Regions from separate parts of the Homo sapiens genome. Here region 2 is linked to region 1. Evidence: fine-mapped expression QTL. Tissue or cell type: macrophages. Region 1 holds a variant in brackets; the other region holds the start of a gene. All regions are shown on one strand. Distances are from middle to middle.

Region 1 (7,801 bases):
TATCAGGTATGTATTAATATATGTATCAACTAAAATTATAGACACCATTGATTACTAGTAGTATCCCAAATTTAGAGACATTATAGTGTGTCCCTTAGAATGGGTAATAAATGTAATGTGTGAATATATAGGTTTTCTGTAATGCAATGCGAATTTTTTTCTGTAAGTTATGAGGCAGTACCATGCAGTGGTTAAGCACACAGACTATGGAGACAATCAGTGTGCCTGGTTTCAAGTCCCAGTTGTCTACTTATTAGCTTGTAGTCTAGAGAAAATCAGTCAGTTTCTCTGATTTTAGATACTTCATCTATTAAATGGGGATGAAAATAATATCTTCCTCTGGATCATTCAAGATATACTTCATTAGACCTAGTGAAGCATTTTTAGTTTAATTTCTAGAGCCTTTTGCAAAATATGGATCGGATCCATTGCTTAAAATACCTATCAGCTGTCAGAGGACATATTTCTGCTTGTATTTTTTTTTCAAGTTTGTCTTCTAGTTCAAAGATTTTTAACGGTTGTCAGGAAGTCTTCTTCAGTCCTATGATGCCCTAAAAACAGCCATCCTATCAGGTTATTGACCCTCACTGAGCTTATGGTAAGTTCGAACATGATGTTAATGAGACACGTTTCCATCCACTCACTTCCCACTATAAGCTAGTTAATTTTGCGTAAAGAAAACCTCCCATCCATAACTATAGCCTATAGTTCTCATTCCTTCCATCTAGGCAGGTTCTTGCTCCATATCTCTTTGCAATTGGAAGATATATATTCACTAATATTTTCTTGCTGTCTTGCTCTCTCTTCCACCTCATCAGTTAGTCTTTGCACAAATAAGCCTCTTAGCTCTATTCACAGAGCAAATGAACAGAATTCATCTTTGTTAGATGAGGTCTATGGCCCAGTGGATCTATTTGGAATATGCCAGACTATTTGTTAACTAGGGTGAGTTATAATGCATTTTTGGAGATGAAAAAAATGATGTCTTTTGCTCTCCTAGGAAATGTTTTTTAAGGTTAACTTTAGGAACTATAAGATGTGGGTTTTGTATGATTTTGTTGTTTGCAATTCTGACAGCTAAGAAAGAATAAAGATGCTAACAAAGGTTAACTTTGAACAGAGGATGTAAGAATGACCATTGTCTTTTTTGTACTCTTCTACATTTGAAACATTCTCCCTGGGAAAAGGATTCTAAATTCCTCCACCTGCTTGAAAAGGTCAGAAACCTCTTTCCAAAAATACTTTTTTATCCTCTTAATGCAATAGTCTCAACCCTGGCCACTCGTTAGAATCACCTGAAAACATGTTTTTAAAATCTCATGCCTGGAAGGATATGAACAGACACTTCTCAAAAGAAGACATTTATGCAGCCAACAGACACATGAAAAAATGCTCTTCATCACTGGCCATCAGAGAAATGCAAATCAAAACCACAATGAGATACCATCTCACACCAGTTAGAATGGCGATCATTAAAAAGTCAGGAAACAACAGGTGCTGGAGAGGATGTGAAGAAATAGGAACACTTTTACACTGTTGGTGGGAGTGTAAACTAGTCTGACCATTGTGGAAGACAGTGTGGTGATTCCTCAAAGATCTAGAACTAGAAATACCATTTGACCCAGCCATCCAATTACTGGGTATATATCCAAAGGATTATAAATCATGCTGCTATAAAGACACATGCACACGTATGTTCATTGCAGCACTATTCACAATAGCAAAGAGTTGGATCTAACCCAAATGTCCATCAATGATAGACTGGATTAAGAAAATGTGGCACATATACACCATGGAATACTATGCAGCCATAAAAATTGATGAGTTCATGTCCTTTGTAGGGACATGGATGAAGCTGGAAACCATCATTCTCAGCAAACTGTCACAAGGACAGAAAACCAAACACCGCATGTTCTCACTCATAGGTGGGAATTGAACAATGAGAACACTTGGACACAGAGTGGGGAACATCACACACCAGGGCCTGTCATGGGGTGGGGGAGGGGAGAGGGATAGCATTAGGAGAAATACCTAATGTAAATGACGAGTTAATGGGTGCAGCACACCAACATGGCACATGTATACATGTACCCTAGAACTTAAAAGTATAATTTAAAAAAAAATCTCATGCCTGGAACCAAACACAAAGATTCAAATTTAATGTTCTTAGGTGAGATTTGAGCATTATTATTGTTTAAAAGTGTCCCCCAGTGATTCTGATTTGCAGCCAATGAAATCCAATGAACTAATGTGTTGCCTTATCTAACTGTCTCTCTGATCTCTTAGTTCCTTGAGAAATGAACTAATGGTAATATTTCATTTTATTCCTTATGGAACACTCAACTAATATTTGTTGTTTGATTGAGACTAAGAGGATAAATAGAGACATGATCTGGACTTTACAATACAATGCATGCCATTGTAATCCATCAGAGATATGATTGGATTTTTTTTTGTATTATATCTCAGTGCCAATAATTTATTTTTTTATTAGCCTTGAGCTAAATTTTAATGCCTCTCTCTGTTACAGAAACTAGAAATTTTACATCCCTGACTGGAATAATAATATAACATGCTCCAGGTCCCTCATCAATCTGTTCAATGAATAGATGATTGGCTATATGCCAAGGGAATCTGCTGCCCTCTGGAGGGTATTGTGCTGTTAGAGATGAAAACACCGTTTCCCAGTGGATATTCCAAGGCACATGGGAAATTATGAAACAAAACCAATGCAACAAAAGAAAAAGGTGTCATGGTCATTTGGAAAATTCATAGCATTTGAAAAATGCCACACACTCTATCTCTCTGTAGGAAAGTCACACTGCAAATTAGCAAAACAGAGACTGAGAAGTTCTATAATAAGATATTTGTTTCCCAAACTAATTGGCCCACCTCCCATCCCACATACACACCTAATTTCTGTTAATATTTGGGAAACTAATATTCTACAAATAATATTTTGTATTCATAATCTACAAATTAATTAAATTAGGTATTTGGAGAAATTGAAGGAGAATAACTTAATGAAGGATTTCTTAAATAAACTACCAAAAAGGAAATATTGATGAAATGAATACATTAAAATGCAAAGATTCCGCATCCTATGCCATGACATATTAACTGGAGGGATGCAATCTGATGTGGCAGTGTGATGTGCCATGCTATTATATTCACGTTTATCTTTCTTCTTAGTGCTTATCCTAATGAAACATTTGAGATATTTATACCATTGCATAACAAATGGGCTTGTCATTTGTGCTTTGCAATAGAAGATGTTGACTTCAAGTACTATCATATTAGGTTAAAGATGTGTGAAGGATAGGCTGGGTGTGGTGGCTCACGCCTATAAATCTCAGCACTTTGGGAGGCTGAGGGGTGGATCACTTGAGCCTAGGAGTTTGAGACCAGCCTGGGCAATATGGCAAACCCCATCTCTACAAAAAATACAAAAATTAGCTGGGCATTGTGGCTTGTGCCTGTAGTTCCAGCAACTTGGGTGGTTGAGGTGGGAGGATAGTTTGAGCCTGGTGGATAGAGAGGGACAGAGGTTGCAGTGAGTTGAGATTGTGCCATTGCACTCCAGCCTGGGCGATAGATAGAACCAGACCTTGTCTCAAAAAAAAAAAAAAAAAAA[AAG/G]ATGTATGAAGGACAGCAAGAGGCTAGGCAAGGCATAATGGAGTTCACCCTGAAGTTCAGTTAGTACAGAGTGGAGGCCCCAAGTATGCAACTCGGGCCGGAAAGATGACAAGTTTGGTGGAAATAAAAAATGTGTAGTCAGGAGGCTTGGGTTTCATTCTTTTGTGTCACTAATTTTGTGATCCTGGCTAACTACATAAAATCCTCCTCATCTGTAAAAGGAAATCATGCAGAGCTGTCTAACGGTTGAATGAGATACCACATATGAAAATGCTTCATACAGCCTCTGACATCATAGGCACTCAACGAATACAAGTTCAAGGTAAATATGATTTGTGAGCACAGAGAAAACACCAAACTAGACAGTCAAGAGGTCAACACAAGAGGAAGCAAAAACCACAGGATACATCTAAAGTGACCAACCATCCAGGCCAAGTTTGCCAGGGATGGTCACAGTTTTAGCACATAAAGTCTTGCATTTGGGGAAACCAGGTAGTTTGGTCCTGGGAAAACCAGGATGGTTGGCCATCCTAGCTCAGAACCTAGAATAGGAGCGCAAACAACAAGGATTGGACCCCAAGAAAAAACAAATGGCCAGAACGCAGGAATGGAGTATGGAAACACTAGGAATAATGGTCCTGATGCTGACCAATATTTCTCAGACAACAGATAGCAAAACAGGCTCAGCATGTGAGTAGGGATGAACCCATAGGTGGAAGTCAGTATACACACCTGACTTAACTGAGGGAACCTCAGGAGCCAGGTAGTGCTATGCAAGACAAATCTTACAAAGTTATTATTTTTTTCTTTTTTAAAGATCTGTCACTCAGGCTTGAGTGCAGTGGTGCCATCAAAGCTCACTGCGGCCTAAAACTCCTGGGCTCAAGCAATCCTCCTGCCTCAGCCTCCCAAATAATGCAATGGCAGACACATCACTGTGCTGGGCTAATTTTAGAAAAGTTTTTGTAGAGATGGGAGTCTCACTTTGTTTTCGAGGCTAGTCTCGAACTCCTGGCCTCAAGCAATCCTCCTGCCTTGACCTCCAAAAGTATTGGAATTACAGGTGTGAACACTGTGCCTGGCCCCAAATTAATTTCATAAGTGACTTTGGTGATGAGCTAAAATGAACAATGAGGAAAGGATGGTTTCTTCAATAAATAATGCTAGGACAGTCATTATCCATGATACAAAAGGAATCGAATTTTCTACCTCACACAATACAGAAAAGTTTATAATTTAGAAACCTAAATAAGGAAAAAAAAACTTTAAACATTTTAAGAGAAAATAAAGGAGAAAAGCTTAATAAAGATTTTAAGGCCAGGCACAGTGTCTCAAGCCTGTAATCCCAGCACTTTGGGAGGCCGAAGCAGGCAGATCACTTGAGGTCAGGAGTTCGAGACCAACCTGGCCAACATTGTGAAACACCATCTCTACTAAAAATACAAAAATTAGCTGGGCATCGTGATAGACGCCTGTAATCCCAGCTACTTAGGAGGCTGAGGTAGGAGAATCACTTGAACCCCAAAGGCAGAGGTTACAGTGAGCCAAGATCGTGCCACTGCACTCCAGCCTGGGCAACAGAGCAAGACACCGCCTCAAAAAAAAGGAAAAAGATTTTAAAATAAGCAATAAAAAGGGAAAGATTCATAAAGTTGATTATTTTTTGTTTATTTATTTATTTATTTTTTTGAGACAAAGTCTTGCTCTGTCGCCCAGGCTGGAGTGCAGTGGCACAATCTCGGCTCACTGCAGCCTCTGCCTCCTGGGTTCCAAGTGATCCTCCTGCCTCAGCCTCCTGGGTAGCTGGGATTACAGGCACACACCACCACGCCTGGCTAATTTTTGTATTTTTAGTAGAGACAGATTTCACCAGGTTGGCCAGGCTGGTCTCAAACTCCTGACCTCGGGTGATCCACCTGCCTTGACCTCCCAAATTGCTGGGATTACAGGCATGAGCCACCGCGCCCAGCCAAAGTCGATTGCTTTAAAATGAAAAGATGCCATGAACACAGTGAACAGCCAAGCCATAAACTGAGAAACAATATTTGCAATATATCAAGCCTACAAAGTACTTATATCAGCAAGTACTTAAAGGAAAATGCCAGCAATCCAGTAGGCATAGAATAGGAATAGGCAATTCACGGAAGAAACTTCAGTAGTAAAAACATATTTTTAAAAAGCTCGGCCGGGTGCGGTGGCTCACACCTGTAATCCCAGCACTTTGGGAGGCCGAGGCGGGTGGATCACAAGGTCAGGAGATCGAGACCATCCTGGCTAACACGGTGAAACCCCGTCTCTACTAAAAATACAAAAAATTAGCTCGGCGTGGTGGCAGGCGTCTGTAGTCCCAGCTACTCGGGAGGCTGAGGCAGGAGAATGGCGTGAGCCTGGGAGGCGGAGCTTGCAGTGAGCCGAGATCGCGCCACTGCATTCCAGCCTGGGCGACAGAGCGAGACTGTCTCAAAATAAATGAATAAATAAATAAATAAGTAACTCAGTTTTACTACTTGTCAGAGAAATGCAAATTGAAACCACAATGAGATAAGATTTTACATCAAGCAGATTGTCAGAAATTAAAAAGCCTGGCAATACCAAGTGCTGGCGAGAATGTGAAGCCACAGAAGTTTTCTTACACTTCTACTAGGGTGTAAATTGGTACAACCATCTTGGAGAGCAAATGCTCAATAGCTAGAGATGTTTTGAAAGTATACACTTGTGCAATACCTCCTCGTTGTGCAGTCTAGAGAAACTCGCAAATGTGTGCACAATGGGTCACGTATAAGAGTGTTCACTGTAGCATGGTTTGTAAGAGCAAGAGACTGAAAACACTCTGAATGTCCATCAGCTGTAAATTAAATAAATTGTTGTACAATTCATTCAATGGAATGCTAACATACAGCAGTTACAGTAAATGACTGAAGTTAGATGACCAATATCACGAAATCTCCAAAGCATAATATTAAACTAGAAAAAGTAAGTTGCAGAAATATTTGTACCATATGGTATCCCTTATATCAGCTATAAAATATGTGCAATATTATAAATTTTATGTGTACACAAATATGTAATAAAAATACAAAAAGTCACAGAGATAATAAACCAAATATTGATTACTTCTAAAGAGAACAAGATGGACATGAAATCAGAAATAGTTAATAAGGCATCAAATGTGTCTATTACATTTTATGTTTAAAATATCTGATGTAAGTAAAGCAAAACGTTAAGATTTGACAGAGTTGGGTGGTAGATACGTAACTGTTATTTCATTCTCTAGACTTTTCTGTAGGCGTTAAGCATTTTATTTTGAAAAAATAAAAACAATGTTATTAGCATTTAAATTCAGATTATTTCAGAATTACTCTAAAATATTTTTAAAAGCAAAACTATGCTTTCCGGAGTTGGCAACTTAACAAAGCCAAGTTTAACAGTCTGTTCAAAGAAAGTTAAAGTATGCCTTGTCCTGACACATATTTCACTGCCACTTAACCAACACTAGATGTCACTTTACTTCATGCATTTCATTTGAGAGTTTCTGGTTGAAATTAGATAAACTTGGGTATGTTTTATCATTTTCTTTCTCCAGTAGATACAGAGAATTATGAAAAATGAAAATGTTCTCTGCTATATATCCATCCAGAAAGACAAAGGACACGTGTATTTGGGTTTATCCTTTTATCCTTGGCACATACTGCTTATAATAGGGTTGCAAAAGTATTGTTAACCAAATAAACAAAGGATACAAGAAACTTTCGCAGAAGAAATGTTTAATATCCCCAATATGTATATAATTACATTTGGAACAGTTTTTCCTTCAAACGGCAGCGAGCTGTTGAAAGCACACCTTCCAGGGATTTGCAAGGGAAAGGTTACGACTCTAATTTCAAAGCCCGGCTTGTGGTCAGTGGAGAGAAGACACCATTTCAGATCTTTCAACCCAAAATTGTATCTCAGTTCATTGGAGCATTGGATCTCCAATAAGGACTGACAAATAAGAACTCCTTAAATCAATAATTGAACCTTTTTAGAAGGAGAGTGACCTTTGATAATCATGAAAATCGTGAACTCTCTGGAAATTTTCATCTAAACATATAAAAATCAGCCAGGTGCAGTGCCTCACACCTGTAATCCCAGCACTTTGGGGGCCACGGTTGGCGGATCACTTGAG
Region 2 (5,000 bases), 41 kb before region 1:
TTAGTTAGGTGGAGGAAGGAATGGAAAATTATTGTTTAATGTTTAATTGTAAAATTATTGTTTAATGGAAAATTATTGTTTAATGGGCAAAAAATTTCACTTTTGGATGGTAAACAAGTTCCAGAAATGGACAACGGTGATGGCTGCAGAACAATGTGAAGGTACTTAATGCCACTGAATTATACACTTAAAAATGGTTAGAGTGGCAAAATTGTAATGTATATTTTACCACAATAAAAAGATAATTAATTACAAAAAAACCCACCAAAACACATGGCTGAATCATTTACAGAAACTCGTTTGACAGACATACAGTCAGTTCAATTCCTTTGGCAGATCTGTCTTTCCCCTGAAGGAATGAATTTCCTCAATAGCTTTGGTGTTGTGCCTTTAGCATTCATTAAAAGACTCAATAATTTCACTTGAAAACTTTCTTTCAGGGCTAAATGATGAGAAATGTTTTGTTTTCTCCAGCAAAGTAGTGTGTTTCCCTTATGGTATTATTATGAATCAAGTGTCTGAGCTCTTCCTACTTTAACTACTAGGAATAAAATCTGTAGCTGAATTCTGGTTTAAGTCCATGTCTTGTACCTAGTATATCACAGTATCCCTCCTGGCTTTGACTTTATTTTTGAATTTTGCCGTATATTTGTCAATTTAATTGTATGTATTCTTATTAGTCAGACTAAACCTTTGAGAAATAAGGTGAAGCAAAATAAATGCAATGTTATGACCTTTACAGCTCTTTAGCTTACCTGCATGTTCATGTAGCCATCTACAGATACCAGATAGCCCTTGTACTCCATTCCCCACTTAAGTTTCACCATCACTGGCTTTCCTGTTAGTCCATTGAGGAAAGGTTTGGGATTGAGGGGTAAACTCTGCACAAAGAACAAAAAAGGATCTAATTAATTATTTTTCCTCCCACCACCAACTCTCTTCTACCGAATCACCAATATTTTGTGGTATGCAAATGAAGAAAACTTTTGACTCCTTATTATTTTAGTACATAATTTTCACTTTTATTTGTTGAGAGTACCAGGGAAATTTAAATATCCAGTTAGCCAATTTCACCTTTAACCCATCAAAACAAAACACTGACTATTCACTTAAGATACACTGACTACCTACATCACTCACTGTTCTGAGCTCTAAAGAAACAAAGATAAAGGCACTAAAAAAAAAAAAAAAAAAAAGCGGGCCAGGTAGGGTGGCTCGTATCTGTAATTCCAGTAATCTGGAAGGCCAAGGCCGGGGGATCACTTGAGGTCACGAGTTCAAGACCAGCCCAGGCAACATAGTGAGACCCCCATCTCTACCAAAAATAGTCAGGTGTGGTGGTGCACACCTGTAGTCCCAGCTACTAGGGAGGATGAGGTGGGAGGACTGCTTGAACCCAGGAGCTCGAGGCTGCAGTGAGCTATGATTAGGCCACTGCACTCCAGCCTGGGCAACAGAGCAAGACCTTGTCTCTTATAAATAAATAAATAAATGAGTCCCTGTCAAGAAGTTGGAGATGGGGAGGGGAACTCCTCACATACAAATAATTATATTGCATGCTGCACTGTAGTAAAAGGAGATATACTAGGCACAAGGGTACCAAAGCAATCCAGGGGAAAAAGGAAAGGTTGCCTGAAATAAGTAATACCTCAGTTTTAAAGGATAAGAGTTTATTTCCAGAGCGGGAAAAAATGCTGTTCCAGGCAAGGCTAGCTACTTATGTAAAAGGAGGGAAGAGTGATGCAACAAGGTGGTTTTGGGGACATACAATTCAGCATTGTCAGTCAAAGCCCCAAATATAAAACTACAGAAGGAAGCAGAGGGCAGATCACGCTTGACAGTATTTAACTGGGGAAGCTAGGGCTAGGTCCTATCTGACTTTGTCAGTAGCACCGCCTCTTACTTACAGCAATTACTTAATGTCTATTTATTCAGCAAACCATTAACATCTCCAGTGATTTCGGTTTTTGCCCTCTTCTGCTCACTCACCAGTCAAACAAAGAAGAGAACTAAGAAACTTGGCTACTAACCCCCTCTAACATGAGCATATTCGGAGTGATCTTGATATGGCGATTACTCCAATAACCTAATGGGTCTCCAGTTTTCATTCTCCAATTTGTTATCCACCACAGTAACTATGATTTTTTAAAGTGCACATCAGATTGTCATATTTCTGCTTAAAATGATCCAATGGCTTCCAACCGAATCATTTTAAATTGATTTGGAGTACAATCAAAACCTCCCAATACAGCCTAAGAGGTCCTGCCCAACGCCTGCTCCTCCGATACCATCTCTTAACCACTATTCGCGCAAGTGGCTATACCTTTCTGTCAATTTCTCCAAATGACCAAGCTTTCTTTCCGGCCGCAGGTCTTATGCTCCTATTCCCTGTGCTCGGTACACTCCTCCTCCTGCTCTTTAAAGGGTCGTATTTCATGACACTTAGGCTTCGAGTTAAATTCCACCTCCTAGGGAGGCCATCTCTGACTAAGCCTCTAATGTCTAACGCGCACCCTCACAGCCTCCTGTCTGCATTGTTCTTAGCACTTATTATTTGCAATTACATACTTGTTATTTTTTGACTAATGTCTGTCTTCCCCACCCAAGTGAGTTAATCTAGAGCATGGCCGTATCATTACTTTCACGGAATGAAAGTGAATTCTGGAGTGTGGTTAAGTGGGAAGTGCAAATTCTCTTTGACTTTTACCCCGACCCTATAGCCCCAACTAAGAATACCCCAGGCCCGGATTCAAACAAAGAGAAGAAGGCACGGGCACTCCTAGGAAAAGAAAGGCATCGGGAGGAGCACGCGCCTCAGAAACCTAAAAGCAGAGTGAAAGGAGCTGGCGACAGGGTGCGCGGCGCCTCACGCGGATGAATGGGAAACGCGCGAAGGAACCAGCAGGCCCCGCGAGGCTGGTCTCCCTCCTTCTCTTTCTCCCCGCTTCTCCCGCCGTTCTCTTTCTCCTTACCATCGTAACCACGGCCGAATGTTGCAGGCTACTCTCTGCCGACCAGGCCGCCGCCCGTCCCTCGTGACTACAGCAGGTACCGCAGGTCCCGAGCCGCAGTTTCAAGAGAAATGGCCGCCAAACAGGACTATGACCTTTCACCTCCCACCACGGCCCTTCCTGCCTCTGTGATTGGACGCAAAGAGGTGCGTGCTGATTGGAGGAGATGGCTGGCCCAGTATCTCCTAGCAACCAGCAGCGGCTTGGGTTTGCGCCTTGCAGGCGGCGCGCGGACCTTGGGAAACCGGCTCTGAGCATCGCTGTGAGGCAGCCAAGGACTGGAGGCAGGCCGGTGTTTTTAAATGTGGTGTCCTTCCTAGAGGGCGGTCTGGGAGAGGCTGTGTAACGGATGTGACTTCTCCCCAACTTGGCTAATGGGGATTTACTTTGTCTTTTTACACCCGTGAGAATGTTCGGGGTCCCAGAGTTCCTTCCTCACTCTTCCAACAGGTTCCATGATTTGGGGGCGCCTCTGCCGCAGGCCCTTTCTACCTGAGTGTTCTCTCTTCTGCAACACCCGTTTTAACCCCTTTTAAAGGAATTGGGGGCTAGCCAGACTAGACTAGGGGCGGCGAAACGCACTGAAGAGAGTTGGATACAGAATTTCTTGCAAACGAGGTCGAGTTGCGTCTGGGATACGGTGTCATGCCCCACCCCCGCCCCACGACCCTGCCGGCCCCACCTTTCTTTTGCTTCGCCTGCAGAAACCCGCACGGCCTTCATACGTGCATTTGAAATTACCTAAGGGCGTAAGCAATATTTCCTCTGTCACGGATTAAAACTTTCGATGTAACGGTGTTATCTGAATCTCACTAGTTTTTGTCGTAATCCTATTGAGTTCGGGTCACTCTGATCTGAAATGCTAAATGCAGTTCTTGGAGAACACGCCCTTTGGGAAGTAACGCTTTTTTGCGGCCCTGAAGAGATGGATTTGGAGTTGAGGATGAAATGTTGGGTGTTGAGGCATTGTGGAGCAGTGGGCAAGACTTTGGAGGGGGCCTGCATTCGGAACCTGCGTCTATCAGGCGCGGCCGGTGTTGGGCAGTGTCTTAACCCCGAGGGCCATTGTTTCCTCGGCAGGAACGCGGCTTTAAAAACGGAACCATCCTCAGGGTGGTTGCGAGAATTTAACGTAAAACGGGGCTTGGCCTTGTAAAAGCTCAGTGTTTCACGTAAATGTTGAACACTGACCAGACAATGATTGTCAGTGTAGTTTTTACCAAACAGTTATTAGATTTATTCACCCTAAACTTCAGTGGATTTCTCCGTTTGTCTATTGTTTTATGAACTTTAAGTCTTTGTATAGACTTTGAGTTCCTACTATGTGTCAGGCTTTTTCAACAATCGTGGAAATCTTACCTTACTGTCTGATTCGGGGTGACAGCCCCGTTTAAGAGATGAGGAAGTAGGCCCAGCAGGTAACTGTTACCAGTTGAGGGTAGCTGTCCGAGTTCTTGGCGTTTTCAACAAAGAATTGGACAAAACGCACAAACAAAGCAGGGCAGCGAAAGCAGAGATTTATTTTAAATGAAAGTACACTCTACAGGGTGGGCACCGCCTGGTGCAAGCGGCTCAAGAGCATTGGTTATAGAATTTTCTGGGCTTTAAATACCCTCTAGAGGTTGCCCATTGGCCCACAACCAGTCTGATTGGTTGCGGGAGGGGACCAATAAGAGGTACTTTCATTTTTCAACTGCCACGCAGAAAAAGGAGGGGTTGAAATGGGAGTAGCCTCTGATACCCAGTCAGCATGGATGGGCCCTAGGTTCCCTGCTTCCAGCCGCTATTCTTCTGCCTCATAGCTTGCTCAGGACCACATACCTGGGTTTCAAAACTCTGCTTTTTCTACTTCATGAAGCTACCTTTCAAAGACTCAATATGTGTTTTAGAAGCCTGACTCTTTAGCTGTTTTCTCAGTGAAGTGAAACGAAATACTACAGTAAACACATTCTGTAAAGATAGTGTATTTAAGGTTGGTTTTTCTTTTCA

Alleles and levels. Alleles are on the strand shown, and positions count from the first base shown. SD is a standard deviation of normalised expression in the study named.
For the expression in macrophages of the gene that starts at base 3,097 in region 2, G is the low allele of the variant in region 1 and AAG is the other (moderate effect, 0.63 SD a copy in Alasoo 2018).

Evidence for each region. PIP is the estimated chance that this variant, and not a neighbour inherited with it, causes the effect.
Region 2: it holds the start of SNRPF, and the variant in region 1 is fine-mapped to the expression of SNRPF in macrophages (Alasoo 2018, PIP 0.95).

Annotation. Positions count from the first base shown.
Region 1 is chr12:95,815,145-95,822,945 of GRCh38, reverse strand. All of the region lies in intron 2 of SNRPF-DT (SNRPF divergent transcript), which reads left to right. The region is part of intron 1 of LINC02410 (long intergenic non-protein coding RNA 2410); the gene reads right to left. Among named protein-coding and RNA genes, the nearest start is that of LINC02410, 16 kb to the right of the region's middle. The variant AAG/G (reference allele first, on the strand shown) is at 3,635.
Region 2 is chr12:95,857,049-95,862,048 of GRCh38, reverse strand. It overlaps SNRPF (small nuclear ribonucleoprotein polypeptide F), which reads right to left and starts at 3,097. Exons shown (of 4, transcript NM_003095.5): 1 at 2,973-3,097; 2 at 756-881. The coding sequence starts at 2,975. It overlaps SNRPF-DT (SNRPF divergent transcript), which reads left to right and starts at 3,210. Exons shown (of 3, transcript NR_135014.1): 1 at 3,210-3,295. RefSeq lists enhancers at 2,775-2,824, 2,855-3,084, 3,205-3,264, 3,315-3,374, 2,773-3,388.